Homo sapiens: one gene and its partners. The protein of the gene in region 5 interacts with the protein of the main gene of each other region in a biochemical or structural test. Each region holds a gene or a part of one and is shown on either strand. Other genes may lie near its edges. The genes, in order: KCNJ18, CYTIP, GOT1L1, SCN5A, DVL3, PLXNB1 and SLC34A1.

What was found.
Region 1: the proteins of DVL3 (region 5) and KCNJ18 interact in a test that uses a peptide from one of them, tested with the Homo sapiens proteins (one large-scale study listed by IntAct).
Region 2: the proteins of DVL3 (region 5) and CYTIP interact in a test that uses a peptide from one of them, tested with the Homo sapiens proteins (one large-scale study listed by IntAct).
Region 3: the proteins of DVL3 (region 5) and GOT1L1 interact in a test that uses a peptide from one of them, tested with the Homo sapiens proteins (one large-scale study listed by IntAct).
Region 4: the proteins of DVL3 (region 5) and SCN5A interact in a test that uses a peptide from one of them, tested with the Homo sapiens proteins (one large-scale study listed by IntAct).
Region 6: the proteins of DVL3 (region 5) and PLXNB1 interact in a test that uses a peptide from one of them, tested with the Homo sapiens proteins (one large-scale study listed by IntAct).
Region 7: the proteins of DVL3 (region 5) and SLC34A1 interact in a test that uses a peptide from one of them, tested with the Homo sapiens proteins (one large-scale study listed by IntAct).

What each region holds. Positions count from the first base shown.
Region 1 is NC_000017.11:21,691,136-21,695,533, reverse strand, and holds the start of KCNJ18 (inward rectifier potassium channel 18), read right to left. Parts: upstream 3,012-4,398; 5' UTR 2,820-3,011; intron 1-2,819. UniProt on the Homo sapiens protein: Inward rectifier potassium channels are characterized by a greater tendency to allow potassium to flow into the cell rather than out of it.
Region 2 is NC_000002.12:157,437,286-157,441,160, forward strand, and holds part of CYTIP (cytohesin-interacting protein), read right to left. Parts: intron 3,807-3,875; exon of another isoform or gene 1,991-3,806; intron 1-1,990. UniProt on the Homo sapiens protein: By its binding to cytohesin-1 (CYTH1), it modifies activation of ARFs by CYTH1 and its precise function may be to sequester CYTH1 in the cytoplasm.
Region 3 is NC_000008.11:37,937,061-37,941,691, forward strand, and holds the start of GOT1L1 (putative aspartate aminotransferase, cytoplasmic 2), read right to left. Parts: upstream 3,065-4,631; 5' UTR 2,970-3,064; coding exon 2,855-2,969; intron 1,822-2,854; coding exon 1,640-1,821; intron 690-1,639; coding exon 578-689; intron 327-577; coding exon 217-326; intron 1-216.
Region 4 is NC_000003.12:38,548,666-38,552,540, forward strand, and holds part of SCN5A (sodium channel protein type 5 subunit alpha), read right to left. Parts: intron 2,894-3,875; coding exon 1,656-2,893; 3' UTR 1-1,655. UniProt on the Homo sapiens protein: Pore-forming subunit of Nav1.5, a voltage-gated sodium (Nav) channel that directly mediates the depolarizing phase of action potentials in excitable membranes.
Region 5 is NC_000003.12:184,165,264-184,169,138, reverse strand, and holds part of DVL3 (segment polarity protein dishevelled homolog DVL-3), read right to left. Parts: intron 3,718-3,875; coding exon 3,648-3,717; intron 3,014-3,647; coding exon 2,874-3,013; intron 2,694-2,873; coding exon 2,617-2,693; intron 2,534-2,616; coding exon 2,466-2,533; intron 2,314-2,465; coding exon 2,164-2,313; intron 1,560-2,163; coding exon 1,428-1,559; intron 1,242-1,427; coding exon 1,074-1,241; intron 1-1,073. UniProt on the Homo sapiens protein: Involved in the signal transduction pathway mediated by multiple Wnt genes.
Region 6 is NC_000003.12:48,416,486-48,420,360, forward strand, and holds part of PLXNB1 (plexin-B1 precursor), read right to left. Parts: intron 3,773-3,875; coding exon 3,092-3,772; intron 2,882-3,091; coding exon 2,759-2,881; intron 2,555-2,758; coding exon 2,432-2,554; intron 2,058-2,431; coding exon 1,964-2,057; intron 1,879-1,963; coding exon 1,706-1,878; intron 1,578-1,705; coding exon 1,426-1,577; intron 1-1,425. UniProt on the Homo sapiens protein: Receptor for SEMA4D. Plays a role in GABAergic synapse development. Mediates SEMA4A- and SEMA4D-dependent inhibitory synapse development. Plays a role in RHOA activation and subsequent changes of the actin cytoskeleton.
Region 7 is NC_000005.10:177,382,800-177,387,327, reverse strand, and holds the start of SLC34A1 (sodium-dependent phosphate transport protein 2A), read right to left. Parts: upstream 2,895-4,528; 5' UTR 2,841-2,894; intron 1,634-2,840; 5' UTR 1,587-1,633; coding exon 1,478-1,586; intron 1,342-1,477; coding exon 1,192-1,341; intron 1,108-1,191; coding exon 979-1,107; intron 906-978; coding exon 762-905; intron 1-761.

The DNA of each region.
Region 1 (4,398 bases), on a different chromosome or scaffold from region 5:
CTTGGAGCCAGTTGTGAATAGCTGGGGGGGTGGATGAATGAATGGGTAGATGGATGGATGGATGGATGGATGGATGGAAGGATGGATGGATGATGGATAGGTGGGTGGAAAAATGAATGCAGGGATGAATGGGTAGGTGGATGGATAAATGGATGAGTGGGTATATGGATGAATGAATACATGGGTGGGTGGATGGATGGATGGGTGAATGAGTGGTTGGGTGTGAGGGTGGATGGCTGTATGGAGGAAGGATGGATGAGTGGATGAATGGGTGAATGGATGAGTGGATGAATGGATAATAGGATGGAAAGATGGATGGATGGATGGATGGATGAATGGATGGATGGATGGATGGTTGGATAGATGGATGGATAAGTGTGAAAGTAGATGATTGGATGGATGGATGAACAGAAGGGTAGATGGGTGGGTGACTGAGCGGATGGGTAGATGAATGAATGGAGGGATAGATGGGTGAATGGGTGGATGGATGGATGGATGGGTGGATGGATGGGTAATGGGTGGGTGGATGGATGGATAGACGAATGGGATGGATGGATGGGCAGATGATTGGGTGGATGGATGGGTGAGTGAATGAGTGGATGGGTGAGTGAAGAAGTGAATGGATAGAGGGATGGCTGGGTGGATGGGTGGGTATATGGTTGAGTGGGTGGATGAACAGATTAATGGATGAATGGGTGACGGGTGCATGGATGGATGGATGGATGGAATGTTGGGTGATGGATGGGTGGAGTGAATGAGTGGATGAGTGGATGGGTGGATAGATGGACAGGTGGATGAGTGTATGGGTGGGTAAAGAAATGAATGGATAGAGGGATGGAAGGGTGGATGGATGGACAGATGGGTGAATGGATGGGTGGGTGGATGGGTGGGTAGATGGATAGATGGATGGGTGGATGGGTGGATGGATGGGTGGGTAGATGGATAGATGGATGGGTGGATGAGTGTGAGGGTGGGTGATGAGTGGGTAGATGGATGGATAGGGTGTTTGGGCAAGTAGGATAGATGACTAGATGGATGAGCAGGTGGGCACATGGCTAACTACATGGATGGGCACACATCAGTAATTTGCCAGAGATTTGCCTTGGGTACACATACATCCTACATGGTCCCTGCAATCCCAAAGATGCAATTTCCCCACCTGTCAAAGGGATCCCCCTGCCTTCCTATCCAGTGTGCCGTGAGAATCAGAGAAGAGGTTGGTGGGAAGGGGCTCTGAGGATCTCCACGGTGAGCCACCTGACATGCTTCTCACCTCCGCACCTCCCAGCCATGGAGTTCATGGGGCCTGCCCTTTCCAAGGTTACAGCCGAGGCTGGTTTGTCACACTGGTTTTTCTGGCTGGAATTAAGGCAACTGTTGGTGAGTCACCCCCACATCATCAGCCTCCTGGGACAGGTGACAGTGGTTTACAGGCACACAGACCTAGATTCAAATCCCAGCTCTGCCCCTCATAAGCTGTGTGACCTTGAGTGAGTCACTTCCCCTCTCTCAGCTTGTTCTGAAATGGGATGGCCTGCCTGGTCTCTAGTGGCCCTTCAGTCCCTCTTCACCCTCCAAGTCCCCCAATCCCCAGCCCCTTCTTCCCCATCCCTCATCATTCTGGGAGCAGAAGCCACAGGCCTACACTTTGCCTCTCTCAGCCATTCCATCCTCAAAACTGATGGGGACACAGAGGTTCAGAGATGGATGGGTGGATGGATGGACGGGTGGATGGATGGACAGGTGGATGAGCTGCAGAGTTTCAGAGAGGTTCTGTCACAAGCCAACATCAAACAGCTGGGGACCTCCACGGCAGGGACTTGGGTCCACCCCCTTCCCCGAGTGAGCCAACACTGTGCTTGGCCCTGCATGCTTGGCAGCTGGCTGCAGTCATCCCGATGCTCACAGCCCTGCCTTGGAGGAGGGACAATTCTCCCCTCTGGACAGATAGGAAAACTGAGGCTGAGAGAAGCTAAGTCACCTGCACAGTCACCTGGAGCTGGAACTCTGAGCAGCGAAGGTCGGATATTGCCACAGGGCCATGGGGAGCCAAGCAGGGGTGGGGGCCAGAAGTGTGGGCAGCAGCATCTATCCACATCCTGCTGGTCACCTGGCTTGCACCAGGCTCTCCCAACCTCGTCCCTCACTCCCTACTACCTGAAAGGGGCATTCCCCAGACCACAAATCCAGCTGGATTTGTTTTTATCTAGGAGGAAGGCAAAATTAGCTCTACTCTACACAGGGGTACTGAGACGTAGAGCAGAGAAGCGAATTTCCTGAAGTCACAGGGCAGGGCAGCACCCTGCAAACAGGAGCCAGCCTTCCGGATGCCCTGGCCAGAGCTCCCGCCACCTGCAGGGGCCACAGCAGCCGCCATGTGAGCTCACCCCGCCAAGTCCCACAAATGCTTCCCGGGGTTATGGTCACAATCCTGGATGGGGAGGTGGGCTGCAGGGGCAGTGCTTCCCCATGACCACGACTGAGGGCCAACAGGCCGGGCTGGCCCACAGCGTCCCGCAGGGGAGGGCAGGGCCTGGGCTGAGGATGGGGCTGAAATCCCCCACGGAACAGGGCAAGGCACTTCCCCTTCCTGAGGCTCAGCTTCCCCTGAAAAATGAGGCTGGTGTCGCCTGCCAGGCCTCTCAGAGGGTGTGCCATGAAATTGAAGGTGGTGACGAAGCTGCAGTCCGGGCACTGGGCCTCGCCCCAGCGGGTCTCTGGGAGGTGGCAGCCGTCACCCTCCCTGGAGAGGCCTGGCAGCCCCCCAGCTGACTGGGGCCTGAAACTCCCCATCTGCAAAATGAGGAGACCCCACACACCTCGGGAGACTGTCACGAGGGTAAGCCAAGCCCTGGCTTCAGTATCTGTCCCACAGAGACGATGCAGCAGTGTGGGTCCTGCAGGCGTTCACTGTGACCGGCGTTCCTGACACCACGTAGGCACTGAAAGCAGAAACAGGCTTCCCAACAGGACGGAAAGCTGACTGTGCCCAAGCCTCCCTGTGGCCTGCTGGATGTCCTCAGAAGCCCCCCTGGCCCGCAAGGAGCCACAAAACGCACAAGGGCAGGATCTGCCTCGCTGTTCCATGCTCGGGATGCGCCCAGCCCACAGAGGATGCTCAGAAAGTGGAAGCTGCAGGAACCTTGAGTGACACTGACCCCTCACATTCTGTGGCGTAAAGATGGGGGCTGGACATATGGACCCCAGAAAGAGGCTGCACCAAGCGGCTAGAAAAGGCAAATGTCCACCCTTAAGCCCTGAGGTGAGGCCAGGTCAGAAGATTCTGGCCCCACAGGGTGGACGACAGTCACACCAAACACCAGGGAATGTTTCTGACGGTATTTTTATCTTGAGAACATCCTTCTTCACAGAGGGTGGGGGCAGGAGGGACAGAGGGTGTCCTTGGCCCCAGGCCCCTGGGAGAAGCAGAGAACAGAGGCCCTGCAGTAGTGCCCTCTGCTGGGGTGGCCATCACAGACACTGCCCCATCCCTGGGCTCCATTAAGTCCCACGAACAGGGGAGACCTGGAGGGTCTTGGGGCCCTTCTAGGACTCCTGGCTCTGCCCCAACTTGCTGTGTGACCTGGAGCAGGGCTCTGTCCCTCTCTGGGTCTCCCTCTTCAAGTCCTCACTGGGCACCGAGGACTTGAAGAGGAAGCATTGGGCGCCTGCCTTCATGGGGCACCCTGCCTCACAGGGCAGACGGTGAGAAGTCAGCAGTCATAAGTCGCTGGGCCCTCTGGAGCCCAGGGGAGGTGTCTAACCCAGTGGCAGGAGGGGTGCTTCCTAGAGGAGTATCTGCCAGTGGGGAGGCAGCAGCGAGCAGCAGGGGTGACAACCCCGCCTGAGACTAACCATAGCACAGTGACACAGCTAAGAGCACCAGAGTCCTGCAGTCTTGGTGCAGATTCCAGCTTCACTCTCCAGGCACTGGGCCTTGGGCAAGACCCACCCTGACTGTGTGCAAACCAGGGGGCTGGCCCAGCTACTCCACAGAAGCCCTGCCAGCCCTCCATTCCAGGATCTAAACTATTCGGGGTTTGTGGGGAAGGTGTGACGAGATGGGCACAGCCTTGACACCATCATATCAGGGAAGCTCAGCGTGTGCAGGCACAGAGGCTGAGGCATCACCCCAGGGGGCCTCAGATGTCATATTAATGAGCCTAGACTTGATCCCAAAGGCAATGGGGAGCCCAAGGGCCATAAGAGAGCTTGAAACTATAAGAGTTCTGGGGCAACAAGGCATGAATTCAAATCCTGTCTCCATCCCTTCTTGTGTGGCCTTGGGCTAGCCACATAACCTCTCTGAACCGCAGTTTTCTCACCTATAAAATGGAACTAATCATAGCACCTATCTCATGAGGTTGCAATGGAGTTTCCATGAGTGAACACATGGTG
Region 2 (3,875 bases), on a different chromosome or scaffold from region 5:
GGAAGGAAATATTTGCAAACTACTCATTTATATATCCAGAATATATAATGAACTAAAATACCTCAACAGAAAAAAAAAAATTTAAAAATGGGCAAATGATCTGAACAGACGTTCCTCAAAGGAAGCTATACAAGACTGGGCATGGTGGCTCACACCTGTAATCCCAGCACTTTGGGAGGCCAAGGAGGGTGGATCAACTGAGCTCAGGAGTTCAAGATCAGCCTGGCCAACATGGTAAAACCCCGTCTCTACAAAAATACAAAAATTAGCCAGGCATGATGGCAGGTGCCTGTAATCCCAGATACTAGGGAAGCTGAGTTGGAAGAATCGCTTCAACCCGGGCGGCGGAGGTTGCAGTGAGCTGAGATCATGCCATTGCACTCCAGCCTGGCGACAGAGTGAGACTCCATCTCAAAAAAAAAAAGAAAAAAAAAAAAGAAAGGAAGAAAAAGAAGACATACAAATGGCTAACAAATATATGAAAAAATGCTCAATATCACTCATCATTGGGGTAATGGAAATTAAAACCACAATGAGGTATCATCTCACACCAGTTAGGATAGCTATGATCAAAATGACAATAAATAATAAATGCTGGTGAGGATAAGGAGAAAAGGGAACTTTCATACACTGTTAGTGGGAATGTAAATTAGTACAGCCACTATGGAGAACAGTATGGAGGTCCCTCAAACAACTACAAATAGAACTACCATATGATCCCGCAATCCCACTACTGGGAATTCATCCAAAGGAAAGGAAATCATTATATCGAAGAGACATCTGCACTCCCATGTTTATTACAGCACTATTCACAATAGCCAAGAGATGGCATCAGCCTAGGTGTCCAACAACAGATGAATGGATAAAGAAAATGTGGTATATATACACCATGGAATACAATTCAGCCATAAAAAAGAATGAAATCCTGTCATTCACAGCAACATGGATTGAACTGGAAGACATTATGTTAAGTGAGATAAGCCAGGAATAGAAAGTTAAACACCACATGTTCTCACTCATATGTGGAAGCTAAAAAAAGTTGATCTCATAGAAGTAAAAAGTAGAACAGAGGATACTAGAGGCTGGGAAGGGTTGGGGGAAGAAATGGATAGGGACACACTTGTTAAAGGATAAAAAATTACAGCTAGATAGGAAGAATAAGTTCTAGTGCTCTATACTGTAGGCTAACTATAGTTAACAATAGTATATCATGTACTAGTTTCAAATAGTTAGAAGGAGGATATTCAACAGTCCCAAAATGAAGAAATGATCATTGTGTGAGGGAGGTGATGGATATGCTAATTACTCTGATCTGATCACTGTACATTCCACGTATCAAAACATCACTATGTATACCATGAGTATGTATGATTATATATCAACTGAATAAGTACAAATTTTAAAAACCAAAAAATTTTAAATGAAAGAAAACAGACAAGAACAAAAAAAAAAATTCAATCCGAAACAAGAAATGCAGAAAAAGTACTAACAGAAAACAAAGATAGTAGTGCCTTAGTACATAGCTGCTAAGTGGATGAATGGTGGCAAGAATTAATAAATTATTAGTAAAATTTTGAGCCTTGTCAATTTTAAATACCCTTTTAGTATGCCGGAAATCAGTGCATCTATTAGGAACTTCAAGATTTCATCCAATCGGTCTTTTGAATCAAAAGTCATTCTGGATAGATTCAAATGTAAAATCTTTTAAACCACAGGACAGACCTGAAGCCTCTATAGATATTTCCCCCACCACTCTACTTCTAACCTTTCTATCTAGCTAATTGACTAGTTAAAGATGAAAATATTTGTCTAGCACAACATGAGAAGCATAGCAGATTTTCAGTTCCTGTGGACTGACTAATTTGGGTTATCAGCAACACCAAAAGTCAGATTAAGTCAAATTACAAATTAGTTTCCATTCGGTATTAGCTAAGAGGCTGTTTCAAGCATCTAACACTTAAACAAAAAACAATTTAAATAAATTAAGTACCGTCAAATTCTCTGACACGTGCCACGTCTTGACACAAAGCCTGCTTGTTTTTGATCCGGGCTGTCAGACTCAGGCGATGTGGAAAGGAATGTTCCCAGGGTTCGAAACTAGCTCACACACCAAACTACCTGCCTAAAGTGAAATGAAGTGTGTCTAAGGTCTTATCAAGGGTTTTGCACTTTGAAAAAAAAAAAAAGTCTTTCCTGCCCCGCTTTCCCTAGGGCGAGCAGCCTTATTCAAGGATCTGACCAGTGGGGTCTATGTTCCCCAGACAGCCCTCCAGTCAGAGCCTTTTCTAAGGGTTGTAGTGATGGCGCCAAAAATCATGAATGAGGAACTGGTGTGCAATTCACAGCATATGCTGGCAACAGCTGTCTTTTATTACACATTATCTAATATGAGAAATCTAGGTTTAGCAATTTGGCAGGCTTGCAAACTACACATTCAATTATGACTGCTGAATAGACAAAGCTTCTTAACTCCTTGCTAGCCATAATACACTGATACCTAGGGTTGGGCTTATGATCACTCTTCTGTTTTTAGTCAGATAACTTAAAAGATCAGGCATTAATATTCAAAATTTAATTTCTTCTGCTCTGCAGTGATTCTACACATTCCTCTTCAGTGGGAAACCAAGACCAAATACTTCAGCTGTCAATTTCTGAAAGACAGGAGTACTTGGCAGCTCAGCCAGATAGCCAGCTCTCCTTAGAGAAGCTCAAAGTTCAACACTTTAGCCACTTCTGGGTTACAGAGGTTACTTCCTCCTGGTCCCCACTCTATATACTCATCTCCTGAAAGTGTTGGGGAGGGTGCGGGGGAGAGGTTACTGATTCCAGAGTGAGGTTTTTTGTCACTGTTACTTGTTTCAAAGGCCCCAAAATTATGTGCTCTGCTCCCTTTCCAGTCCCCTGCCTCACTCCCCAATTCTTCCATGCAACTCCCACCCACTTTTAAATAAGGAGCATTAGGATATCAACGCTCCACAGACTATTCAAAGATGCAACAAAATAATGGAGCTGAACTTAATTTCCTGACGTTAAGTGCCCGGAGAAACCGAAATACAATACCGCCATTTCCAAGTAAGGTCTGATGGTGGGCTCACAGACTCTTCAAGAAAAATTATTGGATATTGACCATGCATGCCACAATACAGATTAAAGAATAATTTTCAAAGTCTTTTCTAGTGAAATTAGCACAGTTTTCTACCTAAAATTGTCATGAGGTGATTAAAATCCTTTGGTGTAGTTCAGGACAATTGGGAGTTACGGCACCTGATGGGTGTGCTGCCGGACACACCGTGAAAGCTCCTGCAGGGCAGAGCCCAGCCCAGCAGTGTACACATCCCAGAGCAGAGCACACATTCCCTATCTGAACTTATAGATGAAATCAGCCTGCCAGAAGTTGCCTATTTAGCAATAATGTGATAACTAAAAGAAAATTAGGAAAAGAGAGTCAGTCTGTGGTACCACTGAAGTTTGTGGACTTGTTTGTCAGGTCCCTGGTTCTCACTATAGCATTCTGTAAAAACTGCTTTCCAAAAGCAACGTACTACATTTATGAGAGTGGGTGGTAAGACAATCACTACTTCTTTGACATCATTGATAGAGACTGTCCTTAATTCCTCCTGTCTCCTTCCTACCGAGCTTTCCATTGCAAAGATTTTTTTTTTTTGTCCTAAAACTGTGTTCACAAGTAGAAGCCATACTGGGGTGTCTGACACTTCCTATCAGTACAGGTAGTGAGATAATATGCACACAGAGAAATCTATCTTTAAATAATTCTGAATGTAAACACCCAATTGATTCTGAAGACTAATAATTTGAAACTACAAGCTAACCAGATATAGCTTTGCAGAAACCAAAGCCAACAACAACAAGAAGTA
Region 3 (4,631 bases), on a different chromosome or scaffold from region 5:
CAGGTACAGACGGTCTCATCAGGCTTCACCCCCACCCAGGAGTGGCGGCCCCAGGGCATTTGGGGGTGAAGTGCTCCTCCATGTTAGTTACCATTGAAGGGCCAGGCAAATTCAAACCTGGAAAAGGTCTTGGATGACTTAAGAGGTGTGGGGAGGAGAGGAACATTAGGCTGTAAGTCAGCTCTAGGGAGGAGTTTCTGAGCGGGGCCCCTCTACCTCCACCACATTGAGGAGTATGTCGGGGTCCATGCATAGCTTCTTGGGGTCCCAGACAGAGTATTCATAAACTGTAAAGCCCATGTCCTGGAAGACGAGTCCATGCAGTTCTGTGGGAACACAGCCCCCCACTAGCTGGTACATGGGAAACAGAGAGACGGAGACAGAGGTACTGGAGTGTGGGGCTGAGAGTCACTGGCTGAAGGTGGGACATTAACAGGAAAAGGACATAAATAGCTTGGCTTGTCTGCCATTTTGCTCATGACAGAGAATGAGGGATAACAGTGAAGATGGCAAATGGGGTGAGGATTAGGAACAAGGGACGGGGATTGCTGTTCCCCTCATCTTGGGTAAGACTAACCTTTTTGAGAAGAGATGATGTAAACTATACGAGCATCCTTATGCCAAGCTCTGAGAAACTGGACGCCAAGCTGGAAGGCACCACTGTCACCAACAGTGTGTACACCCCCTACCTGCCAGCAAGACATAGACACAAATAGGCCAGGTGTGGTGGCTCACACCTGTAATTCCAGCACTTTGGGAGGCTGGGGTGGGTGGATCACTCGAGGTCATGGCCAACATGTTGAAACCCCGTATCTACTAAAAATACAAAAATTAGCCGGATGTGGTGTTGGGCATGTGTAATCCCCGCTACTCAAGAGGCTGAGGCAGGAGAATCACTTGAACCCGGAAGGCGGAAGTTGCAGTGAGCGGAGATCAGGCCACTGCACTCCAGTCTGGGTGACAGAGTGAGACTCCGTCTCAAAAAAATAATAAGTAAATAAACATTAAAAAATAAAAAGAAATAGACAGAAATAACACTCTAAAACAGTAATGGAGGCGAGACGCAGTAGCTCATGCCTGTAATCCCAGCACTTTGGGAGGACGAGGCAGGGAATCCCCTGAGGCCAGGAGTTTGAGACCAGCCTGGCCAACATGGTGAAACCCTGTCTCTACAAAAAATACAAAAATTAGCTGGGCGTGATGGCACATGCCTGTGATTCCAGCTACTCAGGAGGATGCAGCACCAGAATTGCTTGAACCTGGGAGGTGGAGGTTGCAGTGAGCTGAGATGGCACCACTGCACTCTAGCCTGGGTGACAGAGTGAGACTCTGTCTCAAAAAATATATATAATAGGTTAAAAAATAAAACAGTAATGGGAATACTAACACCACCTCCAATTCAGATCATTCCTGTCTTGAAAGAGCTTTCAAATCAGCAGTGTGAGCAGGTGGGAATACCACTGGACTGAGATTCCGATCCTGACTCGATGGCTAAGGACTTGTGGACTCTCTGAGCCTCAGGTATCTCTTTTATCAATACCAGGGGGCCCTCCGAGGTCCCCTTCGGGTTTAAGGTTGTGCAGACCCAGATCGCCACTCTCTGTGTCTAAATGAGCCAGGGGAGGGCCCACCTTCTCACCCTGTTCTCCACAATGGCTTGGCTGTGCTTTCCAAAGAGGAGTGCTAGAGAGGCCTGGATGAATGATTTCAGGCCCATGGTGGGCAAGTACTCATAATTCAGGGAGGGATCCTGTGAAATCTGTAGTCGAGTCTTCTGCACCACGAGAGAAACCCAGGGATGGCCTTCATTTGTCATGCAGACTGTGAGGAAAACCACAGAGGGAGCTCCAGATGCCTGGTTTGGGCCCCCAGGGCTGAGCTCTGCAGACAGCCTGCAAACAAATCTCTCCTGGACTCCATGGGGCTGTGGGAAGGTGCCTGTGAAAATACAACTTTCCCTTTTCTTTTCTCCTTGATGAAAAGAATATGCTGTTAGTGAATGTGTATTATTTTTGTCTTTTTAAAAAAGACAACTGAAACCTATGCCATTTTAAAGGTTAAAAATTATACAAGCCCAGGATTGGTGGCTCAGGCCTGTAATCCCAGCACTTCGGGAGGCTAAGGTGGGTGGATCACTTGAGTTCAGGAGTTCAAGATCAGCCTGGGCAACATGATGAAACCCTGTCTCTACAAAAAAATACAAAACAGCCAGACATGGTGACCAGCGCCTGTAGTCCCAGCTACTCAGGAGGCTGAGGCAAGAGGATGGTTTGAGCCCAGGAGGCAAAGGTGGCAGTGAGCTGAGATCTTGCCACTGCACTTCAGCCTGGGCAACAGAGTGAGGCCCTGTCTCAAGAAAAAAAAAAAAAAAATATATATATATATATATATATATATATATATATATATATATGCAAAATGAGAGTTATAGGTAGATGAAGCTAAATAAAGGTAACCCTGACTTTCACAGTGGTGAGCCCCAGTTGCATAGCAGAAAGCTCAATCTGGAGAACCATTCTTGGTTCAAGAACAGGAAGAGAAAGAGAAAGAGAGAGAGAGGAGGTAAGAATCTGAAGAAGTGTGGGATGGCCATGCAGGCCCCCAAGCATAGAGTTGTGGAAGAGGACATAGCTCTCACCAAATCCCTAGAAGCCCCCAGAGAAGGGCAGAGAGCATGGAATGACCTGGGACCTTATCTGCACTTTTCCCCACTGGGTAATTCTGTTAACAAGAAAAGATCTCTCCACCCACAGAAGCTTGGGCTGCACCCCTCCCCCTGCAGCAGGGAACACTGTCCTCCTAGAGGCAGTTACCATCACTTAAGTCTTATACTTCAGAACTGCTAGGCATCTACCTCTATAGGCTAAGAATATCTTGTTCGGGTAATCATCTTGTTTGTAGGTCTTTAACAAGCTGCCCTCTAGCTTGTGGGCGAGGGGCACATCCATGAACACTGAAAGGGTGGGCATAACTGAAACGAAACTGGAGCCAAGACTATGTGTCTCTGCTCCTGTGTTCCGCTTCTGCCCAGAAGTCTTCCTCCAAGGCTGGGCCGGGCAGTCCTGCCTCTTCCTGGAACCTTGGCAGCCCCAGTGCAGAGGCGCTGGACAACGGGTTGCCAGGGCAACAGAACCTCATGATCTTTGTGGTGGCGATCCACAGGGGCCACAGGAACATTCCAGGGTACTTGAGGAGAATCCCCTCAGACAGCGGGCAGGGCAGGATAACAATCTCCGGAATTCCCAAGCCCGTTTCCCTCACTCAATGCCTTCTCTTCTCTAGCCCCAGGTGGCTCAGTCCAAAGTAACAAGCCCACTCCTTAGATGACAGGGCAAGGATAATGGGAGATTACTTAACAGATACAATGTACATTGTTGGGGTTATGGATACCCTAAAAGCCCTGACTTCACCACTATGCGATGTATGCATCTAACAAAATTACACTTGTACTTCACACATTTATACAAATTAAAAAAAAAAAAAAGAAAGAAAGACATAGGGCAAGGCAGGCAGCCAATAAGCCAGATAGGGCTTCTCCTGCAGAAGCAAAAACCCCAGATCACACACCAATGCAAGTCGAGGCATTGATTTCCATTTTGCAAAGTGCCCCAGATTTCAAAAGGAATAAAAAGCAAACACTGTTTTCTTCCACAGTTGTTTTAATAAAGAATCCTATTATTAGAATATAATTGGCAACTCACTAAGCCAGTCCTATTTCTCTCAGTTATCTAGAGCCAAGACTTCTACATATGTTTGTTAAGTTTCTTTTTCTTTCTTTTTTTGGTTTTTTTTTTTTTTGAGATGGAGTCTCACTTTGTCGATAGTCTCGAACTCCTTGCCTCAGGTGATCTGCCTGCCTTGGCCTCCCAAACTGCTGGGATTACAGGCATGAGCCACCACACCTGGCCATTTGTTAAGTTTCAATGACAGCCAACTAGTAAGTATAGACAGCAGAGGCCAAGGGGAGAAAAGAGCCAGCCTCTATAGAGTCAGTCTGCATATTGCTTGCTTTCTTTTCCTTTTGATGTTTAATGACTCTCTCTTTTTTTTTTTTTTTTTTTTTGAGACAGAGTCTCGCTCTTGCTGCCCACATTGGAGTGCAGTGGTGTGATCTCGGCTCACTGCAACCTCTGCTTCCCAGGTTCAAGAGATTCTCCTGCCTCAGCCTCCCGAGTAGCTGGGATTACAGGCATGCGCCACCACACCCAACTAATTTTGTATTTTTAGTAGAGAGGGGGATTTCTCCATGTTGATCAGGCTGGTCTCAAACTCCAGACCTCAGGTGATCTGCCCACCTGGGCCTCCCAAAGTGCTGGGATTACAGGCGTGAGTCACTGCGCCCGGCTTTTTTTTGTATTTTTAGTAGAGACAGGGTTTCACCACGTTGGCCAGACTGGTCTCAAACTCCTGACCTCAAGTGATCTGCCTACCTCAGCCTCCCAAAGTGTTAGGATTACAGGCATGAGCCACCACACCCAGCCTGATGTTAAATAACTCTTTAAATGATTGTTGCAAACACTGTTGATGTCTCACCCAGAAGGCCTTCACCACCAATGTGCCCGGCCCCAGCTGCTGCTTCGCTGGTGGACAAGGCTTATATGCCTGTGTTCTCTGGAGAATTGTGCTTGGCT
Region 4 (3,875 bases), about 150 Mb from region 5:
ACTGCCACAAATGTCCAGCCCTCCGACAGCTCGGCGAGGTAGGTTAGGAGCAGCCAGCCCAGAGCCGGCAGGTGAGACTGAGGTGGCCTGGGAGGCATGCGCCCGGTGGAGGGGCTCCATGGGAGAGCTGGAATGGGGCAGCCAAGCCCCTGCCTGCTCAGGCTTCGCCAGTTGACCCTGTTACCTCAGGGTGACAGTTCTCTATGTTAAAAGATTTGCATATGCTAAATAGGATTGTCAGCAGCTGAAGAGGTCCTGGGGGTGATTGGACTAGTAAAATATTTTTCCCTGAAAAAGCCTTTTCACAAGACCTATGGGACCACCTGGATCTTGCCCCAAAGAGGTCCTCTGTGTGGGTGCCATCAGGATCCCGGGCTGAGCCAGAGAGGCTGGGCCTGACCACAGTGCCCCCTCTCTCAAAGGTGCCATGGTTCATTCCCCTCTAAGGGCACGAGAACTGGGCCTGACCATCCCTTTCCCTGCACAGGGCGCAGGGCCAAGCTCCGCTCCCCACTCCCATGTCTCTGTGTCTGGAGAGGAGCTGGAGACCACACAGAAAACTCCTCCGCGTATGGTCCAGAGAGCCCTGGGAGATCGCCAGTTTCCTCTCTTCAGGCAGGCTGAGGGGCCGCCATGGCTCAGGGCTGGTGAACTTCTTAGCCCCAAACCCCCATGGCTCAGCCCTCTCTTCCGATGGCTGGCTGGGCAGGGCCTGCCAGGTTCCAGGAGCAAGGACAAGCTGCATGCCAGGCCGTGAATGGGGCTTGCACCCTTGTGTCCTTTGGTTTTGTTAATACTCTTACAGGAGGGGAAGAAAAGGCAACTATCAGTGCCTAGGGCCAGCCCTGGGACCCAGGCCACTCTCCTCTGGAAGCCTTTTATTTTTGTAGGACTGACAATATGACCTGCGTGAAAACACAGGGGGAAAATGGGACCTTGGAGACAATAGGGGGCCAGAGTGAGCCCCGTGGACAAGAACCCCATCCTTGGGGGGCCGGCAGGGAAAGGCCTGTCTCCCTTAGGCTGGGAGCCTGGGTCCCACGGCCTGTGTCTGGCCTCCGTGTGTGAGGACTGTGTGTGTGTGCTTGTGTGAGTGGGGGTTCAGCCCTCCCAGCATCTCAGGTCAAGTGGGAGGGGGACCCCATTCGACCCCTGGGCAGTGAAGACCTGTGGGAGCCACACTGGATTCCACTTCTGCTTTGAGAACAGACTTCCGGCTGCTCCATAGACACTCTTGTTCAGGGTTAAGAAGAGACAGCGTGAATTGCTGCCCATGTCCATGGAAAAATCCTTAGTTCTTTGCTCAAGTAAAAAAATATCAAATATAATAAATTTATGAAAGCCCATTCACAACATATACAGTCTCAGTTTTATATTTCGCCTCAGCAGCTGGGATGAAGTTGCTTTCCAGAGCCGCAGGGCATTGCCTGACCAGACCAGGTCACAGGTCTATCTGAGGCCTCCAAGCACAGGCCAACTGCTCCGGCTGTCCACGCGGCGCCACAGAACTCTGCCTGGTTGATCCGCGGGGCTGAGGCCCATTTCTTACTCCCAAAGCCAGGAAGGCCCCAGGCTGGTTTGTGACTGACTGCATTTAGGTTTGCCATGGTGAAAAAGGCTGCTTTTCAGTGTGTCCTGGCCAGCCAGGCCGAGGCTCACACGATGGACTCACGGTCCCTGTCCGGAGAAGGGGGGAAGTCGGCGAGATCTTCACTGTGGCTGTAGTCAGACCCCCGCACCTGGAGGTTATCGCTGGTGGCTCTAGTGACACTGTCATAGGAGGGTGGGAAGGAAGTGGAGGAGATGGAGGAGCTGGAGGGTGGGCCAAGGGGTCGGGAGAAGTTCTCACTCATCACGTAGGCGATGAGGCCCTCTCGCTCAGGGGCATCCTCTTCGGAGAGGCCGCTGCCCGCCTGCTGACGGAAGAGGAAGGAGGCATGCTTCAAAGAGCGTTGCAGCAGGTGCCTGCGGAAGGCTCTCTGGATAACCATGGCCGACACCTCTTCGTGCTTGCGCCGGAGTGTGGTGGTGATGGGCTCGTAGGAGATCTTGGATGGGTTGGCTGCCATGAACTTCTCCTCCATCTGGATCTTCAGGGCGTCCATCTCCCCAGACTCCCCCAGGACCCTTTTGGTGAAGGCAAAGAGAATGTCCATGCAATGGATGCGGTCCCCACTCACCATGGGCAGGTCCATGTTGATGAGGCTTATCTGGTTGGGCTTGGCGATACGGAGTGGCTCAGACAGGGCATCGGCAAAGTCAGACAGGACCGAATACTCAATAAACTGAGTGGCCTCTGGGTCAAATTTCTCCCAGATCTCATAGAACATATCGAAGTCGTCCTCACTCAGGGGCTCGGTGCTCTCCTCCGTGGCCACGCTGAAGTTCTCCAGGATGATGGCAATGTACATGTTGACCACGATGAGGAAGGAGATGATGATGTAGGTGGTGAAGAAGAGGATGCCCACGGCTGGGCTCCCGCAGTCCCCCCGAGAGCCATTGCTGTTGGGCAGAGTGGGGTCGCAGTAGGGCGGCCCAGTGTTGAGGATGGGGCTGAGGAGGCCATCCCAGCCGGCCGACGTGGTGATCTGGAAGAGGCACAGCATGCTGTTGGCGAAGGTCTGGAAGTTGAACATGTCGTCGATGCCAGCCTCCCACTTGACATAAGCGAAGTTGGCCATGCCAAAGATGGAGTAGATGAACATGACGAGGAAGAGCAGCAGCCCGATGTTGAAGAGGGCAGGCAGGGACATCATGAGGGCAAAGAGCAGCGTGCGGATCCCCTTGGCCCCTCGGATCAGTCTGAGGATGCGGCCTATTCGGGCCAGGCGGATGACTCGGAAGAGCGTCGGGGAGAAGAAGTACTTCTGGATGATGTCCGAGAGCACAGTGCCTGTGGGAAACAACAGAGACTGTGGCTACTGGTGGCACCTCTGTCTTCCAGCCAGCATCACTGTGCAGGGGTTGGCGGTGGGGGGGGGGTCTCTATATGGCAAGGAGCCAAGGAGAGGCGGCCCTTCCAGGATTGCGTCCACTGGGCATGCTAGGACTCTGCCTGCTCCTGTCTGTTTGAGTCTCCATGTCTGCATCTGTGACCCAGAAAAATGGGTCCTTTGCAGGGTTCCTTCTCAGCCCCCTCATTCCTTAATCTTCAGTGTGTACCTACACAATAGAGCTGTCCTAGGCCCATCTTCTACATCTTGGGTTCTCAGGCCAGAGGGGATCTGCTTAGTATCTTGCCCACCCAGCTTGGGCCAGAACTCAGGTCTTTTAGCTCCTTGCTATTCAAAGTGTGGTTTGAGGACCAGCAGCCTTGGGATCTCCTAGGTGCTTATCAGAAATGCAGAATCTCAGCTCCACCCCAGCCCATTGCATCTTAAGAAGCCCAGATGATTTATGTGCCCATCGAAGGGCATGAAACACTGGCCCAGAAATCAGTGCTCCCTGATGCCACGCCATGGCCAGTGTCTTCTCTCAGCTTCTCTGTGATGGTTCTTATCGCTCTCCTAACTCTGCCTCCTTTGAGGGCGTCACTGCCCCTGGGTCTCCTGTGACTACCTGGGTTTGGAGTTTTAAGGGGCATGGATATAAATCATGGAATAAAGAGTGAAATAAACTTGTCTTATATGGCCCAAGTGCCCTTTCCAGACTCCTTATATAATAATGTCACTGACTGACATGGGTCCAGTGTTTACGATCACTGGGGCAATGGGCCGAGCACTTTATAGCCATCATTTCATTTAGTCCTTCCCATTGTCCTAGGAAGTGAGCAGATGCCATCATCCTTATCTTCCAGAAGAGGAAACAGAGGTGAGGTAACTTACCCAAGTTGCCACCTAGTGAGTGAGAAGCTGGGATTTGACTCAGACGTTCGG
Region 5 (3,875 bases):
GAACTAAATACCCACTAAAAGCCTAGAATGAGTGCAGGGCCTTCCAGAGATTCCCTATATAGAAGGTACTTGGCCCTGATTATACTTTCCCAGTGCTGCTGGGCAGGGTGAGTAGGGTGGGAAGGGGCCAGAAGGAAAGAACAACTTAGGTGCCTCCCCCACTGCTCTCCACCCCGTTCCCAGCCAGGCCTAGCTCTTCATAGCACTGTCTCACTCCACCAACATTACTCATCTCACGATCCTGGCGCCCCCGGGGAAATTATACATTCCTTAATGGCAAGGCTACTCCCACCAATGTTGGAACTACATTGAAGAGAATATAAGGGGCCACCAGGACTGAATACCTGCCTGGGACACCCTCTGCTCACACACTATCGGTACCAGGTCCCAGAGCTCCAAGAGAGCTACAACTGCCCTTGAGGCCACCGGCCCTATTAAGATGAGACATTCCTCCCAGCCCTAAGAAGAGCCAGCCCCAGCCTTCCAAGAGAGAAGTCAGGAGACAGGGCTCTGAGGCTGCCTGTGGAGCCTGCAGCCAAGCCATCAACCTGTCAAGAGGCCAGCAGCCAGCATGGGGAGTGGTGGTGGAGGAAAGCAGTGGTCTGTCAGCTGTTGCCCAGAGCTGGTGATGACGTGAGCCTCCAGGCTGTTTGTTTTGAGGGAATGACTGTGTGCTCCTCGGGGCTACCTAGGCCTCCAGTTCTTCCCTTTAAGCCTACAACACCCTAGCTGAGACCTTGACGAGTGAGAAGGAAAAGGCCTATTCTGGCAGTATCCTCCTGAGCTGGGCCTCTGGGAGGTTGTGAATATTGAGTAAGATGATGCTTTAGGAACAACCAACATGGTACCAGGCAGAGCAGGCACTTAGAAAATGCCAGGCCCAAGAGGGAGATGTGGGCCAGGTGAAGAGGCTAAACTGGACTCTTCTTCCACCATAGAACTCTCAGGCCTTGAATTGGGCCCCTGGCTCTGCTGTCCCCCAGTTTGGGTTCCCCAGAGTCTGCTGCCACTTCCCTGGCTACCTCCCCACTCCCAGCCAGGAGACAGGGCAAGAAGATGAGGGAGGCACATACTGCCGCAGAGGTCACCGAAGATGTAGTAGCACTGCTCGGAGAAGGTGATCTTGTTGACGGTATGGCGGATGAAGCCAGCTTTCAGCAGGTTGCTGGCATACTTGCGGGCCTCCCTCCGGTCCGTGAAGCCTTCCACATTGTGGTACAGCCAGTCCACCACATCTGAGCCTGGGGACAAGGCTGCCAGTTGATGGGGAGGCCCATCTGACTTGGACTCATCTGGCCTCACAGAAGCTATGAGGCTGGGGCTGGCTCCAGATCAAAGGAAGGGTCCAAGGCAAGTCCTGGGCCCTCCGGCCTGCCCTGCCCCATCACTCCCCACCCACCCTGCATCCCACCATGGGGCTCTCTCACCGATGAAAGCATTAGGGATGGTAATCTTGAGCCACATGCGGTCACGGACCTCCAACCCTGATTCAGGGGAGGCCATGGCTTTTACGATGGCAGCCATGTCACTGTGGATGGACAAGTGGAAGTCGTCTAGGCCTGGGGGTGGGAGGCAGAATGGTGAGGCAGAAAGGGGCTTTGGAGTTAGGTAAACAAGAGTTTGCATTCTAGCTCTACCATCTAGTAATTATGGGATCAATGCTGGGAAAATTACTGATTTCTTGGACACTCAGTTTCCCCTTCTGTAAAAAATGGGGATTTTAATATCTACTTTACAAGGCTATTTGAATAAAGGATTAAATAATGTAAATGCAGGTGCTTGGCCAGTGTACGATGTGCATGTGATGATAATCGAAATGGCTGCCGTTTACTGAATGCTTACTTTACACCACACATCGCAATGGTGCTTCACTTATATCCTCTCATTAAACCCACAGGAACCTGGTAAAGTTTATATCGTGAGTCCCATTTTGTAAGAGGAAACTGAGGCGCCCTGGGTGCTCATACAAGTTCAGAAGCAAACACTGTTTAGTGAGGGTTGGAGTGCCCGCTGTGGGGGAGTTGCAGTGTGGGGTTGCTGGAATGAGCCGAGCCCCATCTCCAGCCCTCTCTGATGCTCAAGCAAGAGTCTCCACATGGACCCTCATCAGTCCCCCCACCTGGCCCTGTCTGCTGGGCCCAGGAGACAGGGTGGGACACTCACGCTCTGTGTCAGGGATGGAACTGGTGATGGAGGAGCTGGTGGAGGTGATGGTGCTCAGGGAGGGGCTCATGCCGTATGCAGGGAAGGTGCCGGTCATGGCTGCAGTGTGGGAGACCCAGGCCGCAGGGTCAATGGGCCGGATGGGCTCGCCTGCAGGGAGGATGAGGAGTCATGGGCTACCCACCCCACCCACTGCTGGGCCCAACAGGATAGATATGGGGGTTCTGGGTGAGAGAAGAAAGGAGAGACAGTGCTCATGTATGTAAGCACCAGCTTTAGGACTGAGTCTCCCATCCACTTACTCCTGGGCAATGTGAAGCAACCACGTGGACTTGGGTCCCAGCACTTGGCTACAGTCAGGGTGATGGGCCTGAAAACAAGGGTGTCCTAGTGAAGGCAGGATGCGTATAGGCCAGACCAAGCCCCTTGCCCAGTGCCCCATTCCATCCATACCCCGGTTTGTGCACAATCTCCCGCAGTACCCGGACTGCATCGTCATTACTCATGTTCTCAAAGTTGATCTCGTTTACCTGGGAAAGGACCAGGAGTGGGATAAACAGCTGTGCTGGGGAGGATGAAAAGGGAACTCAACTTGGTAGGTCAGGGAGTCTTCCCCCAACCAAGAAGGGGCCTCTGAAGGAGCAGGGTACAGATGGTAGGACACCTCCCTGCCCTCTATCCACACCACCGCCTAGGATGGGCACTGATACCTGTAACAACATATCTCCTGGCTCGATGCGTCCATCAGCAGCCACGGCCCCACCCTTCATGATAGAGCCAATGTAGATGCCGCCGTCACCACGCTCGTTGCTTTGGCCCACAATGGAGATGCCCAAGAAGTTATATTTTTCTATAGAGAGTAATTTAAGACCTTAAGGGGGAGCAAGGTTCCTACCCGCATTCCCAGCCCATTAGAAAATGGAAAGGGACAGGAACTGAACTGACATTTGCTGATCCTGAATCAGGCACTGCACTCAGCATGCTCAAACATGCTTCCATGGAACCCTTGCTGGCTATAAGGTAGGGACTCAGTCCCATTTTACAGAGCAGGCAACTGAGGTTCAGTGAACTTAGAAGATGACTTTTCTAAGCCAGTAAGTGGCAGAGCCAGGAATCAAACTCAGATTTAAATCCCATAGTTGGGCTCCTTTTACTATATCCAGCTGTCTCATAAAGAGAGTACCTAGGGCAGAAATCGGAGAGCAAGGATGCAATGGCTGAGAGATGTGAAGGAGTGGGCACTCAGAAATCACTTCCTCCAGGAAGCCTTCCCTGATACCATTTTCTGCTTCCACAGCTCTCTGTGCTTATCTCTGTCATAGCCCTGATGGTGAGATACTAAAATGATCAGTTTATGTATCAGCTGATGTTTACGAAAGAGAGCTCCTTGAGGGCAGGGAACATATTCTACGCTCTCTGAACTCAAGTCTGCCCAGTGTCTGGCATATAGCAGGTGCTTGAGAGTGCTGTTTCCTCAGACTCACCCATGTTGAGAGTGACCGTGATGATGTTGAGTGACATGGTGGAGTCCGTGATGCTGCTGAAGGACGAGGACTGGAATAGACAGAGGCCCTGAGCAGCAGGTGGAGGTGGCAGGAATTCACTCCCACCTGACTCCTCCTCAAGGTGAGTCCCCGGTGCAGCCCCCAGCCCCAAGGTTCTCAACACTGCACTAGGGGGATGGGATCTAAGGAAGAACAAGCCTTGGCCCT
Region 6 (3,875 bases), about 140 Mb from region 5:
TGCATCAAGGGCCCCTCAAGCTTACCTGGCAGCCCCTCTCCCTGCCCTACTGTCAGGTGGTCTTCCCCTTCCCATGCTCCATAAGATTGACAGAGACCCTCTCTCACTTTGGAGGGAATTCTTTATGACACATCAGAAGGCCTTGGTATCTGAGAATTAATATTTGTGGCTTCAATCATTTAAGTTCAACCCCAGGGGCCCCCAATAAGGAAGAATTTATCTGTGGCATAAATTTACAAAGGGGCCCTGTCAGCCTGGTTGTGGGGCGAGCTGCTGAGCAAGTGAGTGGGCACAGCTAGCCGCCCATGTCCTCCGCCACGTCACATGCACAGTACCCACTCAAAGCATGGTAGAAACTTGATTTATTCAGGAAAAAGAGTCCCTGAAAGCCTCTAGTCAGACAGGGAAATACAGGTGAAGGGAAAGTGAACCATCTAAGAAAATGCTGGTTCTTAGCCAGAAAATAGAAGCTTGGGCAAATTAAACTTCCAGAGTGTTAAGCCTGCAGTGGCTCAACTCAGTGACATTGTCACAGTTGTTGCAAACACTAGGAAGACACAAGTGACGTGTGAGCCACCCAGGGGAGGCTCCAGACAGAATATATGCTAATTGCTTCATAAATCACAGCAGTCTTATGGTCTGGAACACTAACAGTCTAGATAGTCACCGTAAGTTCTCGGTCATAACACATTCAGGGGACACTCCGTGCTCCAGGAGAGTGGTTCCTTGTTTCAAATACAGATTTGGGGGCCCCACCGTGGGCCTCCTGAATCCAGATGTTTGTGTTGGTTTGGGACAGGATCTGCAGGTTACCCTGATATTCAGCCACGTTTGGGCCCTGCTGCTTATGGACATCTCCTTAGGAATGTCCTGCGTGTGTACCTTTGGGGCCTGCAACCGCTGGCCAGGTTACCATAACCCAGGAGCCCCAGGAAGGCAGCAGGGGTCCCTAGAGACGACAGTGGAGCCTGGCCCTCGGCCAGTGTGCCTTTCTGAGGTGTGCCTTCCAAGTCTACCTTCCTGAAGAGCCTGGCAGCCCAGGACAATGCCTGGGGAAGAGTGAGCTGGTGAGAAGGCCAGCCCCTGAGCTTATCTGTCTGATCTGAGGGTCCTGCTGCCACAGCTATTAATATATCCACAGTCCCTCAGAAGACCAGGTGAGCAGAGCAGGAAGCAGAGCCACGAGTCAGTTCTGGGCAGTGACGGGCCCAGGAAGGATTCCCCAGCAGCCCAGGCCAGGAACCTACAGGTGTGGTGGGTGCTCAGGGTCTTCAGTGGCAACGCTGGCACTCGGGCATTGTGGCCAGGATCAAGGAACAGGGAGAGAGGGGGGCAGATGAGCGGTGGGTGGGAGGCCCCAAGCAGCAACGCCAACCGCGGAGGCCCCAGGCTGCGCCGTGCTCCTGCTGGGTGCAGCCAGCTTACCTGCTGGAGACCTCGTACTCCTGGGCATCCACAGCACAGGGCACTCCAGCCACCGTGACCATGCCCAGCACATCCTGCACATGCTGGCCCAGGTTGGAGCCCCTGATGGTGACACGGGTGCCTCCGTCTACAGGCCCAGTCAGTGGCTCCACCTGTTCCAGGACAAGGACTGCTCACCTCTACTCAACTGGAAAGGCAGCCCCAACCTCCCACCTTTGGGCCCCCACACCCTCCCTCTAAGGGCAGCACTGAGGAAGGGATGGCCAGCCTTTCAACAAACCGAGTGGATGAGGGGCGCTGGGCACTGGGTGGCCACAGCCTCAGCCTCACCACAGGCCTCCCGGGTCACACAACGTGGACGCTCCCCCTCACACCACACACAGCCATACTGGGGCATGGCAGTTTGGCAGCGGCTGCAGTCTCCATGTCCCACGGAACAGTCATACAGTACCACTGGGGGTGGCAGAGACACACGTGAGAGGCAGGCCTGGGAGAGCCCTGCTACCACCGCCAGCCCAGCAGCCCGCAGGTGGCTCACCATGCAGCCCCTCAGCACTGTCCACACGCAGACGGCCGGCCCGACGCAGAAACAGCCCCACACGGAGCTCCGGCTGCAGAGCCTCATAGCTGAGCTGGAGAAATGGGAGTGGGTTCAGAGTCAAGCACTGGGGGAAGTGTCAGGCCTGGGGAGGGGTTAGTCAGAGAAAGGACTAAAACGACCAGTTAGGAGCATAGGGTCAGAGGGACCCCATGGGGCCACAAGTTGGAGGGCAGAGCCAGAAATGGAGTATGGGGACCCCATGGGGTCTCAAGTTAGAGTTCAGAGCTGGGATGCAAGGACTCCACGGGGCACATGGTCAGAGGTCAGAAATGGGTGTGGAGACTCCCTCAGGGCGACACGGTCAGAGCGTGGCTCTGGAAAGTGTGGTGCAGCCAGCTACAGTTGGCAGCCAGCCTGTGGCCAGTGCAGTGCACCCGTGCCCACCCAGGCGCTCATGGTGTGCACCTGGTGCTGCTGGCAGGTGACATGGCACTGGGTATCTGGAGGTGGCTCACACTCGACCCGGGCCTCAACCACCACCTCGAGGCCCTCCAGCTCCATCACACACTCATTGTCTCCTGGGCCATCCTGAGGGCAGAGAACACAGCTGTTGGGCAGCTTCAGGAGCTGGGCCCAGGGAGTCCTGCAGGTCACCCAACAGATCCCCCAGCACAGCTTCTGGGTTGGAGTTGAGCCCTCGGACTCTGCCCTCCTCCTGCTCCCCAGGGCTTGTGCAGAGTTTCTCAACAGCTAAGGAGGCTGCAAGGACAGCGGCAGGCAGGACACACTGACCTGGAAAAGGTGCAGGTTCCTGCCTAGCAGCCGGATTTCCCGCTCCACATGGACCGGCATCAACGTGGAGCCCTGAACGCTCTCCACACAGGGGCAGGAGCTTGCCCCCAAGGTCGCCTCTTCCTGCAGGCACCAAGGGCAAGGCAGTCTATGGAGCCCACCCTGCCCAGCTCAGCCCTCTGCCTTGCCAGATTCCAGAGGCAAGGCCGGTGTGGGGCTGCAGACTCCACCCTGCCCCTCACCTCCTCCCAGTGCAGAATCACAAGGCAAGCTAGGGGTAGCATCTTCCCCACATCCCCTCCCCTGAGGCCTCCTTCCTGGGCTGGGCCTCACCAGCTCCCAGAGCCCGGGGGTGTCATACTGGTAGTCGAGGCTGGACGGGAGGATGAGGGGGGCGGGAGGGCCCTCAAGCTCTGCTGAGTCTCCATCACCTGAGAGGAGGGTGGAAGTGGAGAAGGCGGGTGCGTCACCCCCCGTCCACTCGTCCGCCTCGGGCAGCTCGCCGCCTTCTCTCGTGAGCCAGTCCAGGGCGGGCTTCACGGAGCCCATGGCCCCTGGGAAAGTGGTGGCAGGAACAGTGGCAGGGGGCAGGTCCAGGGGCACTGTGGGATGAAGAGCCTCGGGGCCAGGGTCTGCAGGGGGCACTGCTGCTACCTCTGAGGGTGACAGCGGGGAGGCCAAGAGGTCCTCAGGTGTGGCTGAGGGTCTGAAGTCAGTGGGGGCAGGGACAGCGGTTCCAGGTCCATTTTGGGGGCTGGGAGGGGAGGGCTCCTCATGGAGAGGCGACCCTGTGGAGCCAGGGGAAGATATGGAGCCAGAACCTGCCCATGGCCCCCAGGGGCTGAGCAGGGAAGGACTAGCCCCAGGTGAGATGTCCGAAGCTGTGGCTGTGGAGGGAGCCCCAGGCTCCACGGGAAGGGTGTCAGGAGCAGGGGTGGCCAGGGCTTTGGGGGCTGTGGGTGGGGAGGGGCTGGGTCCACCTCTTGCAGGAGGGTCTGGGGAGACAAGCGGGCTCTGAAGGGGGAGGCAGAGGAAGACAGGAAGGGCCACTCAGCAGGCAGGCGCGGGACAGGAGGCAGGCAGGCACAGTGTATGTTAAGAGGAAAGGAGACCAAGG
Region 7 (4,528 bases), on a different chromosome or scaffold from region 5:
TGCCTCCTGGGTTCATGCCATTCTCCTGCCTCAGCCTCCTGAGTAGCTGGGACTGCAGACACCTGCCACCACGCCTGGCTAATGCTTTTTGGTTTTTGTTGTTTTTTTTTTTTGTATTTTTAGTAGAGACAGGGTTTCACCGTGTTAGCCAGGGTGGTCTCGATCTACTGACCTCGTGATCTGCCCCCCTCAGCCTCCCAAAGTGCTGGGATTACAGGCATGAGCCACTGCGCCCGGCCAGTGATGGTTAGTTTTATGTGTCAACTTAGCTAGGCTGTGGTACCCAGTTATTCAACCCAACACTAGCCTGGGTGTTCTGTAAGGTGTTTTGTAGATGCAATTCACGTCTACAGTCAGCTGACTTTAAGAAAAGGAGATTATCCTTGGTAACCTGGGTCAGCCTAATCCAATAGAATGAAAGGCCTCAAGCAGAACTGAGGCTTCCCTGAGAAAGGAGAAACGCTGCCCTGTCTGGACTGCAGTGTCGGCGCCCACCTGAGAGTTCCCGCCTGCCCTTCCAATGCCCTGGCCTACGGATTCCTGACTTGCCCAGACAAACTACCATCGGGGAAGCCAGTTCCTTGCCATAAATCATCTGGGTCACATACAGCTACAGTTGGGCTCCTCTCATGTCCCTGGCTGATACAGGAGTCAAGCTGAATGGAGGCCAGCCTTACTGGGGTCACGCTCCCCATTTGCCACCCTTCCCAGCTCCTGGGGTGCCCCTCCAAGCTCTTCCCCACCCTGGTGGGCCAACTCACAGCCAGAGGAGACCATGCTGACGATGATGGATGTGGAGGTGCTGGAGCTCTGCACCAGCACGGTCACCAGGATCCCCACCACCAGCCCGGCCACCGGGTTGGACAGGATGGCGTTATCCTTGAAGATGTCACCAGCCACCTTCCCTGGGGAGCATGAGCCAGCGTTGTCCAAGGCCCTTCAGGAACCCCTCCCAGGTCTCCTCCACCCGGGCCCTACCTCCAGCCAGCTGGAAGGCCGAGCTGAGCATGTCCAGGGAGCAGACGAAGAGGTAGAGGAAGGTGAGCATCAGTGGCACCTTGAGCAGCATGGCGCCAGCCTGGCGCAGCTTGGGGACCAGCCTGGACTCTGGATGGGGGAAGCCATGAGCATAGTGGGCAGAGGCCAGGGCAGGGACTGCTGCCGCCTCTGCCACCCCCAGCCCAGGCCCACCTGGCTTCTGCTCCTCCTCCAGGGCCAGCTTGGCAGGCAGTGGTTCATGGCGCTCCAGGACCTCCCCACAGGGGCAGGTGTGCTCAGCAAGGGCCACAGGGCCCAGGCTGGGGAAGGCATAGGCAGAGGTCCCCGGGATCCTGTGTAGGACTAGGGAGGGAGCCTGGTCAGGAGCCCCAGGGCCCCAAAGTGGGGAGGCGGGGAGGAACAGGCGGGGGAAGTGGCCTCATCCGGGATGTGGGCAACCGTGGGCAACCAGGGTCCAGGGTGTGGGAGCAGCACTTACCCTGAGGGCTGGGCACGTAGGCAAAGGCCGTCCCTCGCATCACATGCCCCCCACGGACTGGGAGTGGGGAGACAGCAGGGGACCCCAGCCTCTCTCCGTAGGACAACATCCTGGGCACCCACTATGAGGTCTGCAGGTCAGTGGGTCTCAGCAACGCTGAATGACAATAGCTGTGTCCGGGACACTCATGCCCACACACCCTCACCTGCACAAACCCCCATGGCGCATGATTCCAAATACACACCTAGCAAAGCACACCCTCCATCCTCACCACACACACACACCCCTCCGAGACTCACACGCACAAACACACACCCAGCAAACCACACCCTCCATCATCACCACCACAGCCCTCCGAGACTCACATGCAGACTCACATGTGCACATCTGTGCTGGGCACCTGCATGTGAGTCTCGGAGGGGTGTGTGTGGTGGTGGTGAGGTGATCATTCATTCACCATTCACTCATTCAATGAGTATTATTGAGCTCTAGCCCAGGCTCCGAACCAGAGGCTTGGATATAGCATTGATAAAAGACACTGAGAACTGAGGACGCCCAGCCTGTTTGGGGCTGGAGGGGGCCAGGGAATACGTGGTGTTGGCAGTGGCTGCAGGTGTGGGCTGGGGCTGGGCCGGGCTTCAGTTTTGCCCACCTGGAGAGCAAGGAGGAGCTGCAGACACCTGCCTTCTCATGGGGTCAGCTGGGCACACACGGAGATCCCCTGGGCCGGATCCCGAGTTCCTGGGTTCCCCTCACAATGAATTCCTTTCCCCATCCACCCCCTCAAGGGGCAATGAACAAACACTGACAGGCTTGCCTCAGCCCCCCCTTGTCCCCGCACTGCCCCAGGAGTCTTGGCTATTGGGGTGGAGTGCCCTGATCTGCCTCAGCACTCCCCGCATTGTCCCAGCGTCCTTGGCTGTTGTAGGGGTGTGAAGAGTTGAATTCAAGTCCTGAAGGAGCAGGAGTCCTTTTTTTTTTTTTTTTTGAGATGGAGTTTCACTCTTACCGCCCAGGCTGGAGTGCAGTGGCACAATCTTGGCTCACTGCAACCTCTGCCTCGTGGGTTCAAGCGATTCTCCTGCCTCAGCCTCCCAAGTAGCTGGGATTACAGGTGCCTGCCACCACACCTGGCTAATTTTTTGTATTTTTAGTGCAAACTCGACCTCAGGTGATCCGCCCACTCGGCTTCCCAAAGTGCTGGGATTACAGGTGGGAGCCACCGCGATTGGCTGGACTGACATGTTATATGGGGCGCGGTGGGGGTGGGCGCAGATAGGACACAGATGAAGGGGCTGGGGTGCTGGGCTGTTTCCTACTCAGAGCTGGGGGTGGGGTTGGGATGTGAGGGTCCTGGGCTCACCTTAGAATTCTGTGTTTCAGCTTCTGCTCAGCAGCTCAATGAAGCCTCCAGGACCCTGAGGAGAACTGAGACCCTCCTCTTTATACTCTTGGGTCAAGGGCAAAGTCCCTGGAACCCTAGCTGCCCTCCCTCTGTCCCCCAATTAACCTCACCCCTGAGATTCCTCCCAGTTAATTGCTAATCGTCAGCTCTGCATGGGGAATCTATGGTCAGGTTCTTCCCATCAACCACGACCCAGACACATCCCCCGCCTGCAGGCAGAGACCCTGATGCCACTCAGCACCTTGTTCCCAGGGTCCCCTCGTTCCTGGCCTGACAGGACTCCCCAGGGAATGACCCAAACATCCTATGGCCTTCGGAGGTTGCAGTGAGCCAAGATCGTGCCACTGCACTCCAGCCTGGGTGACAGAGTGAGACTGTCTCAGAAAAACCAAACCAAACCAAACAAAAACATCCTATGGCCTTGCCAAGCGTCGGGGTGTCTGTAAGTCTCCCAGGGGGAGCTCAGAGGAGAGGGAGTGTGAGATGAGGACCTAAGCTGGAAAGGCCGTGGAATGTTGAATCGTGGCAGGTCTCTAATGCCCGACCATGGGTCCAGGATGTGAGTCTGAGTGAATGTGGAGCCGCTGGCCAGACTGGGATGGGCCTGATCTGCCTTTTAGAATGGCCCCCGGGGTGGAACCCGGATATATGGAAGGGAGCCTGGAAGCGGAGGGGCCAGTTAAGAGGCTAATGGTCCAGGCAGGAGATGATGAGGCCTGAACTCCGATGGGAACGGAGGGGCTGGGGAGGACAGGTGCATCCCAGGGACATCTGACCAGTAGAATTGGTGACGGGGAGGGAGAGAGGAAAAGGAAATAGATGGGAGTCGGGTCTCTGGATCTTTGGCTAGGGCTGGGTTCATGCCCAGGTAGGAGGGTGTCGCTGAGTCACGGAAATGCAATCAGTTCTCAGTTCTTGTGTCAGAATCTCTGGGTCCTTGGGCTTGAAGGTGCTGTTAATGTCACATCGAGTGTCTCCACCTATGAGCAAACTGACACCCCCACAGCGGGCCCAGAGACCCCGGCCCACGTGACCTGTTTCTCTCCATTCCCCCGTGCAGTTCAGACCCTTGGCAGGAGCAGCTGAATCCAAGGTGCTCCTGGTGAACTGGGGGTGTTTCTCCTTTTTAATAAGGTTGTGCTTTTTGATATTTTTGAAGTTTGCCTTCCCTGCTGTCACGGAGCTCTGGGTTTAGTGGGGGAGGCAGTTAGCTATCGATCAAATCCATCAAGAGATATAATTCCAAAATGCTGCTGATTTACACAGCCACCACTTCTAAAGATTTATTTTGGGGCTACAGCCCTAGTGAAAGTGAGAAAATGCTGGATCTGACCAGAGCTGCTGTTGGGACTCATACAAGCAGCAGAGAAGGCAGCTCCATTCCAGCACCAACGTATCTCTTGCCAGCCTCTCTGCCATTTCAGCACCTCCCTGCCTACTGCCTGCCTCCTCCCTGGCCAGTGACAGAGTCTGTGTGTCCCCCTGGGTGGTGAGTCCCACCTTGTCTGTGCACCTGGGCTCTGGCCATGGCCTCCCCAGACCTTTTCTGGGCTGAGAGCCTGCCTGGTTGGGGGTGTCTCGCGTTGAGAAAGGAACCCAGCAGGAGGAGCTGTTTTGGAGGGAAGGTGCCAAGCTCCGTCTGCTCA